Linked DNA regions of Homo sapiens. The protein of the gene in region 1 purifies or fractionates together with the protein of each later gene. This does not show direct contact. Each region holds a gene or a part of one and is shown in the gene's direction. Other genes may lie near its edges. The genes, in order: REG4 and RNF123.

Region 1 (4,506 bases):
GTTCTACTCTCTTCTCTCTCATCTCAAGTCTTTAAATCTGGATAATGGCATGGGGATAGCAGACTAAGGGTTGGGATGGCTGCTGGAAACACAGGAGATCTATCTAATCACCCATTTTGTTAAAACTTTTCTGTCTTACATCTGGACCAGGACTTCTGAAATTGAAAGGCTTGGAGTTAACATCTTTGTACGCCATTGTGCCATGAAGCAATGATGATTCCCATCCAGCTGCCTAAAGAGAAAGAGGTTTGTGTCAAACATTCTGATGGGAGAGATTCTTTAAAATGTTCTTTGTGAACCATGAAAGCATTACTTTCTCATGTCCTACCATGAATTTACACAACTGATGCAAAAATCTAATAACAAAGGTTGAGTAGCATTTTCCAAACAACAGTGAGCTGGGAGCAAGGAAGCTGGCTTCTGATATCAGCTTCACCCACAACTGTCTGTGCATTAAACTAGTCACAATGTTTCTCTAGGCCTCAATTTCCTCACCAGTAGAACAAAAGAGTAAGATTTGATAACTACTATGGTCCCTTCCAGACTTAAAGTTTCCAGACATAAAGGTCCTTTACAGACTTAAATCTGTAGTTTAAAGTTGAGTCATCTCTGGCACCTACAACCTAACCCTTTGCCATCTATACTGGAAAAGAAAATCTTGTTACTCTTTTCAAATAGCCTATTTTTCAGTAGAACTGTATTTTGGCAAACACCTATATTTGGAGTCAGAAGGACAAGGTTCAGTGTCCAGGTCCACTGCTGACCAGTGTTGTGAACCTCGGAAGGTTTCTAATCTCTCTTAAGGTTGGGTTTCTTGAGTGTGTAATGGGGATATGTGTCCTATGCTGCTCACAAGGATTTTGTTGGCATCTTATTTGATGACTTCACTGAAAACCCGTTATTGTAACACACTCTGTTGATGTAAGCTATTTTGACATGATCATCCATGTTCTGCGGGAGAAGCTCAAATAGTAGATCTCTGAGGAAACTCACGCATGTTGAAGGAGTGGAGTCGGTGCTTTAGGAAGGAAAATCTGTGTGTGGGTCTCAAGTCTCACCGCATGGGTCATAACCTATTCCTGACCCTGACAGAAAATCCTTCTAGAAATAAAAGAGAAATAAAGGAAATCCACCATACCAAGGCATAAAAAGACAGCCATGAAAAAGTAACATAAGGGGAGAGGAAGATGGGCTTATAACAGATTACAGGATGTTGTCAGTTTTAATAACGTGATGTGAAGAAAAGATTCTGTTTGCACACAGGGAGAGGTTCTTTTCCTGGCTAGTCAAAGCACACCTTACGTACATTCTGAAGCCGTCTCTTATATGATTCATTTTTTTCACTGTAGATAAGACTTTTATGGATGGATTGTTTTTCTCAAATAATATTATCGCTTTGTGACTAAAGTAAAGATTATTAATTCCTGAGGCAAGAAGATATAAAAGCTCCAGAAACGTTGACTGGGACCACTGGAGACACTGAAGAAGGCAGGGGCCCTTAGAGTCTTGGTTGCCAAACAGGTAATCCTCCTCGCGGTTGATGATGGGGGACTTTCTTTAAACATCTGTTTTCCTCTGTCAGCTATTAGCCAGGCCAGAAATGACAAATTGTATTTCTAGTGAGGCTTGTCAGGCTTTCTGTTGCTGTGTTGTTTGATTTAAATTATTTACCTTCTTTTCTTCCTTCACTGCAAAGAGCATTGGCTTTGGTGTCAAGCTGTTGGGTTAAATCTTGGCTCTGCAGTCTGGTAGCTGGGAAACTTTAGAAAAGTTACTCAATCATAAGTGTCAGTGTCTTCATTTGTAACATGCATTCATGAGATCTACAGTGCAGGTTTTTTGTTTTTGTTTCTGTTTTTGTTTTTGTTTTTGTTTTTTTATGGAGTCTTGCTCTGTCTCCCAGGCTGGAGAGCAATGGTGCAATCTTGGCTCACTGCAACTTCTGCCTCCCAGGTTCAAGTGATTCTCCTGCCTCAGCCTCCTGAGTAGCTGTGATTACAGGCACTTGCCACCACGCCCAGCTAATTTTTGTATTTTTTAATAGAGACAGGGTTGTGCCATGTTGGCCAGGCTGGTCTTGAACTCCTGACCTCAGGTGATCCACCTGCCTCAGCCTCTCAAAGTGCTGGGATTTCAGCCATGAGCCACCACACCCGGCCCAGTGCAGCTTACTTATGAACATGACATGCAGACATTCAATGAATATCAGTTCACTAAAAATTATTCACAGATTAGTAAAAAAGATGCTGCCTCTCCCTTCCCCCAGATGGTCACCTTGACAGAGAAATTCTGTTTGCGTTTTAAAGGGGTTTGAGGACATTGAAAATACACTATTACTTTTGGAAGGAAAGTTTAGCAAAGTGCAAGGTTCACGCAATGATTTAAAAAGAAGTAAGGGGTGGGGAAGGTCACATCCACACTCTCCAAGCTTTGTCTCATTCTCAGTTAATGTTGCCTTAAAGTGTTCAGATGGACCCCAGAATTGATTTTCCAGAAAAGTCATCATTTACATTATTCTCTTTAAGCAATCCATTATTTGAGAGTTAGATTGTATATTCAGATTTTTTAATCATAAAGTATGATTAAATGTGAATTCAATGAATTAACTCATTTTAAGAATTATTTGGGAGGGAAATCCAGAACTCAGTTTCATACTTATGTTAAAACAAAGCCCAGACAGATGAAAATAGAACAGTGATAAATATTTTAACCTTATGTGACAGTAATGGCCAGTCTTTTGATATAAATTTAAAAATTATTTTTAAAAACATAAAAAATAACAATATTTTTGAAAATTTCAGAATGGCAAAAATTATAATAAGTAAGAGAAAAATACAAACTGAGAAATACTATTAGTAACACGTGAAAGGCAATAAACATACAAAAAAGATCTCACAAATAAACATACAAAAAAGATCTCACAAACAATGAAATAGAAAAATGTGCAAAACTGTAAAATGAAAATTCACCAAATACTAAAAGCAAATCATTATATAAAAAGATGTTCAACTTCATTAGTAATTATAAAATATTTTAAAACACTAAGGTTCTTCTTTAATATACCAAAATTAGCCAAAAACTTGACAAAATTAAGCATTCTCTGGGAGCTTAGGGAACCAATCCTTTTAGTGCCCTATTAATGAGGTAAATATCACAGCCCATACATTTTAACAAAGGGTATTAAAATGACAATGTGCATGTTGTGTGATGCCACAACCCTATATATGAGAATTTATACTAAAGAAAAAATAAAAAATGCATGAAAGTTATGTGAGTGCAAGACAATGTATTACAATTAATCTGTTTCTGAGAAACAAAACCAGGCTATAGGACTATATGATCTTATTTTTATAAAATTGTACACAGAGAGAGGTGCATAGAAAGATATCTGTAGGCTACTCACCAAATTATCTCCTGGAGATGGGATTTACTTCTTATTTTCTAGTTTTGCATTGATTTTCTAATAGCTCATGTGTTGTTTGCTAATGGGGAAAAGATAAAGCCATGTTCTTTATTTTTAAAAATGATGTCAACTAAGTGTAAAGGAAAGAGTGCTGATGGAGTCAGATCTGCTTATAGCTGGTGTCCATGAACAAATGACTTCATACTTACTGACCTCAGGTTTTCTCATCTGTAAAATGTGGGTATTGGACACTGTGCTCACGTTTAATTTTAACATTTAAAAATTCAATGTCGGAGCCATTCTATTGGATTTTCTTGACAACAGAATGCCCATATCCGTCTTACCTGTGAGGAAGCTTGCCTTGGGCGCCCTCTGCTGGCCCTCCTGAAGCTAACAGGGGCGAGTGCTCGGTGGTTTACAAATTGCCTCCATGCAGACTATGAAACTGTTCAGCCTGCTATAGTTAGATCTCTGGCACTGGCCCAGGAGGTCTTGCAGGTAAGAACAAAATCTCTTAAAATTTTCTAACCTGTACATCTAACTTGAGATTCCCTTCATTATAAAGTCTGGATTTAGCCAGGAAAATATTGTATTATTTTCCTCCATATGTATTAGTTGGCATCTAGATTCCTGGGTCCTTCTCACCTGTGCAAATGTGTTCAGATTTGCAGATCAAGGAGAACCCAGGAGTTTCAAAGAAGCGCTAGTAAGGTCTCTGAGATCCTTGCACTAGCTACATCCTCAGGGTAGGAGGAAGATGGCTTCCAGAAGCATGCGGCTGCTCCTATTGCTGAGCTGCCTGGCCAAAACAGGAGTCCTGGGTGGTGAGTATCCATCACGTAGCTGGAACTGAGCCACAGCCAGTGTTCACACAGCCCATGTGAGACAGTCATCCATTTGCCCACAAAAACATTTAGGAACTGCAGGAAATAGGTTTTTAAACATGGAGATGAAAAACAAAGATAGGTACTAAAAAATTCAAGGGCTCTAGAATCCAACAAAACTCAATTCCATATGATTATAACCCATACTTAAATCATCAGTTAAGGGTAAGTTATAATATTAATTTGGCAAGTTTATTGTGAAGGGCAGAGATAATGTGT
Region 2 (3,812 bases), on another chromosome or scaffold:
CATGTGCTCCGCTGACCATTTATGGACTGGCGGGTACAGGACAGAGCCATCCAGCAGCTCAGAGGGCTGAGCCTTTCATACTTCCAGAACATGTCCCATTCAACACAGACTCCCCTGGCTGGGTGGTGGCGAGACTGGAATCTGCCCCAAAGGAACCACAGGCCTAGGGGCAAGGGTTGGACTAGGTGGCCTTGGTACTGACCACTTTGGGAACCAGCATTTCTCCCAGCCTTCTTCTTCCAGACATCATCAGCACAGCCACCTTTGAGAGCGGACAGGTTATGTGCTATGCAGACAGCACTTGTTATTCCCTGGGCTCTTCACAGCATCTCTAACATAAGTCACTATTCTGTTTTTACAGATGAAGGAATTAAGACTTAGAGAGGGCTACTTTTTTTTTTTTTTTTTGAGACAGAGTCTTGCTCTGTCACCCAGACTAGAGTGCAGTGGCACGATCATGGCTCACTGCAACCTCCGCCTCCCAGGTTCAAGCAATTCTCCTGCCTCCGCCTCCCAAGTAGCTGGTATTACAGGCACATGCCACCGCGCCCAGCATTTTTAGTAGAGTCGCAATTTCACCATGTTGGCCAGGCTGGTCTTGAACTACTGACCTCGTGATCTGCCCGCCTCAGCCTCCCAAAGTGCTGGGATTACAGGCATGAGCCACCGCACCTGGCCACATACTTTTTTTTTTTTTTTTTTTGAGACAGAGTCTTACTCTTGTTGCCCGGGCTGAAGTACAATGACACGATCTTGGCTTACTACAACCTCTGCCCCACCAAGGTTCAAGCTATTCTCCTGCCTCTGTCTCCCGAGTAGCTGGGATTATACGCATGCGCCACCACACTCAGCTAATTTTTGTATTTTTAGTAGGGATGGGGTTTCACCATGTGGCCAGGCTGGTCTCGAACTCCTGACCTCAGGTGATCTGCCCGCCTCGGCCTCCCAAAGTGCTGGGATTACAGGCATGGGCCACCACACCCGGCCTGGACTGGTTATACTTTTGAGTTTAGTGGAGAATTCGGCCTTCTGACCTCCTGCATGCCAGAGTCTAGGACTAGGCACAGCCCTTTTTCTGGAGTCTAGGCAGCCCCCCTGTGAGCTCAGGGGAAAGGATGGGATTTAGTGTCATCTGGCTGATTTCAAGGACTTGTGGACCCCTGGCAGCCTCTCACTCTCCCCAGGAAACCCCTGAACTTCCAGAACCTGCCAGAACATTTGGACCAGTTGCTACAGGTGGACAATGAGGAGGAGGAAAGCCAGGGTATGTGGCCACCTCTGGAGTGGGGTTGGGAGGTGCAGAGCTGGGACGTAGCGGGCCTGGAGACGTCTGGTGAGCTCAGGACACCCTATGCATCCTGTCAAATGCTCCACCCTGCCTGACCCCACCTCTCCTCTTTTCAGGACAGGTTGAAGGGCGGCTTGGCCCATCCACTGTGGTCCTGGACCACACAGGCGGCTTTGAGGGGCTTCTCCTGGTGGATGATGACCTGCTGGGGGTGAGTGAGGGTGAGGTGTGGAGACCCAGGTCCAGCCCCTTCTGACATAGCCCCAGGCTCCTCCTGATGTGGCCCTAGTCTCTCTACTCATCTGATGGGGCTGCAGCCAAAACTTGTCCTGACGTGGCCCCAGACCATTGTGTTCTCAGTCCTCAAACTCTCCCACTAAAGCCCTGAAACAGTCTTGATGTGGACTCAGCCCCCAGCCCTTCCCAGCACAGCCCTGAGTCCCTCTCTCATCCTGCCTTGGCCCAGGATCCTTCCTGATACAAGCCTACCCGCTCCCACCGTCCTCAGGCACAGTGCAGTGTTGGCCGCCACAGGCAAATACCACCAGGGCTGGCTCAGTTGGGGATGGGGTCTTTTTCCCTTGGGGAGATGCTCTGTGTGCCTGGGAGCTAGCCCACCACCCCTCTTCTTCACCCAGGTGATTGGACACAGCAACTTTGGCACCATCCGCTCTACCACATGCGTGTACAAAGGTGAGACCTTACCCTGCTGTGGCCTAGGTAGTGAGGAGAAAGTTTAAGGGCCCAGGCATGAGGCAAGAGGCAGTCTTTGTCCACCTCGTGGCCCTAACTCAGCTCTTTCCAGGGAAATGGCTCTACGAGGTCCTCATCTCCTCCCAGGGGCTCATGCAGATCGGCTGGTGCACCATCAGCTGCCGCTTCAACCAGGAGGTACACGTTGGGGAGGGGACCCCTCCCTGGGCCCAGGGAGAGCTTCTCCTGCCACAGGCCTCATCAGGTCTCCAGATCCCCTCAGAACTGCCTAGGACCCTAACTAACCTGGACTGCCCTCTGGAGAAGAAACGTGTCCCACCCAATCCCAGGCACCCCAGCTCAGAGAATACCTCTTACTCTTTCCCTCAGATCATCTGTTCCCTTCTGTAGAGCCATATGCATCCAAGGCTGGTGATTGGTGGGCTCTGGCCCAGACCCTGCCTGCCTCACCAGGGACCTCATAGGCATTTCCTCCCTAGGAGGGGGTTGGAGATACACACAACTCCTATGCCTATGATGGCAACCGCGTGCGCAAGTGGAATGTGACCACAACGAATTATGGCAAGGTGAGAGCCAAGCCCCTGTGGGTCATCCGCCCCATGACTGTTACTACAGCTTATTTGGAGCCACTGGGCAGCCATAAGGGACTACAGGGCACCAGGGAAGGGTCAGGGACCCAGGTCCTTTGTCCTTGTGGCTAGTCTCCCTTGGGTGGTTCTGGAAACGCAGCTGGGGTTCAGAGTCAGCAGGCTGCTGGGCTTCTGTGCATCTGGTGAGGCCTCCTCTCATGGCAGGCGTGGGCAGCGGGGGACATCGTGAGCTGCCTGATTGACCTGGATGATGGCACTCTGTCCTTCTGCCTGTGAGTTTCCTATCTCTATGCACAGGCCTGGCCCCTGGGGCCTCCCCAGACTGCCCCCAGTTTCCTGGGCCCTGTAAGGGGCCAGACTGAGTTTGATAGCCTGAGGGTGGGCAGCCACATGCTTAGCACTGGCTCACAGACCCACCCTTCTCCCCAGGAACGGTGTATCACTGGGCACTGCCTTTGAGAACCTGTCCAGGGGCCTGGGTATGGCCTACTTCCCAGCCATCAGCCTCTCTTTCAAGGAGTCCGTGGCCTTCAACTTTGGCAGCCGTCCTCTGCGATATCATTTTGTGAAGATGGCTGTGGGCTGCTCAGAAGCTCTTGGGGAGGCTGGGATGAGGGGCTCCCTACCCCAGGGGTGCCATGGGCTGGTGGCAGGCCCTGGCTGCTGCAGAGTTAGTGGGGGGCCATGTAGAGTGTCGAAGAAAACTTTCCTCGCAGCAGCCTGGTTGGTTGGGTGCCCTTGTCTCCACTGAACAGATGAGGAATGTGAAGCATCCTCCCTAGGGAGAATAAGTGGGCAAGTTGTGATGCAAACCAGCCCTGCCCTAGAGCCCAGGCCCCGGGGTGGGGGGTGGGCAGTGGAGAGGGAGTAGGCATGTCTGAGCCACAGATAAGGCGTTGCTGGCTTAACTCTGGCACCTACCCAGTGGCAGGCTACCGGCCCCTGCAGGACCCACCGAGTGCTGACCTGGTGCGGGCACAGAGGTTGCTGGGCTGCTTCCGGGCAGTGCTGAGTGTGGAGCTGGACCCTGTGGTGAGCTGGGGTCTGGGCCAGGCGGGGTGGGGGGCTTCCACAGCCTCCTGCCCCTCACACTTCTCCCTCCTCCCCCTCCACACAGGAGGGGCGGCTGTTGGACAAGGAGAGCTCCAAGTGGCGGTTGCGGGGCCAGCCCACCGTCCTCCTCACACTGGCCCACATCTTCCATCACTTTGCACCGCTTC

Evidence for each region.
Region 2: the proteins of REG4 (region 1) and RNF123 purify together in Homo sapiens (affinity purification with mass spectrometry; 2 studies listed by BioGRID and IntAct, with this or other methods). This does not show direct contact.

What each region holds. Positions count from the first base shown.
Region 1 is NC_000001.11:119,808,424-119,812,929, reverse strand, and holds the start of REG4 (regenerating islet-derived protein 4 isoform 1 precursor), read left to right. Parts: upstream 1-1,469; 5' UTR 1,470-1,521; intron 1,522-3,727; exon of another isoform or gene 3,728-3,901; intron 3,902-4,066; 5' UTR 4,067-4,160; coding exon 4,161-4,227; intron 4,228-4,506. UniProt on the Homo sapiens protein: Calcium-independent lectin displaying mannose-binding specificity and able to maintain carbohydrate recognition activity in an acidic environment. May be involved in inflammatory and metaplastic responses of the gastrointestinal epithelium.
Region 2 is NC_000003.12:49,695,959-49,699,770, forward strand, and holds part of RNF123 (E3 ubiquitin-protein ligase RNF123), read left to right. Parts: intron 1-1,184; coding exon 1,185-1,264; intron 1,265-1,404; coding exon 1,405-1,499; intron 1,500-1,926; coding exon 1,927-1,981; intron 1,982-2,093; coding exon 2,094-2,179; intron 2,180-2,481; coding exon 2,482-2,568; intron 2,569-2,796; coding exon 2,797-2,864; intron 2,865-3,021; coding exon 3,022-3,147; intron 3,148-3,509; coding exon 3,510-3,624; intron 3,625-3,709; coding exon 3,710-3,812. UniProt on the Homo sapiens protein: Catalytic subunit of the KPC complex that acts as E3 ubiquitin-protein ligase. Promotes the ubiquitination and proteasome-mediated degradation of CDKN1B which is the cyclin-dependent kinase inhibitor at the G0-G1 transition of the cell cycle.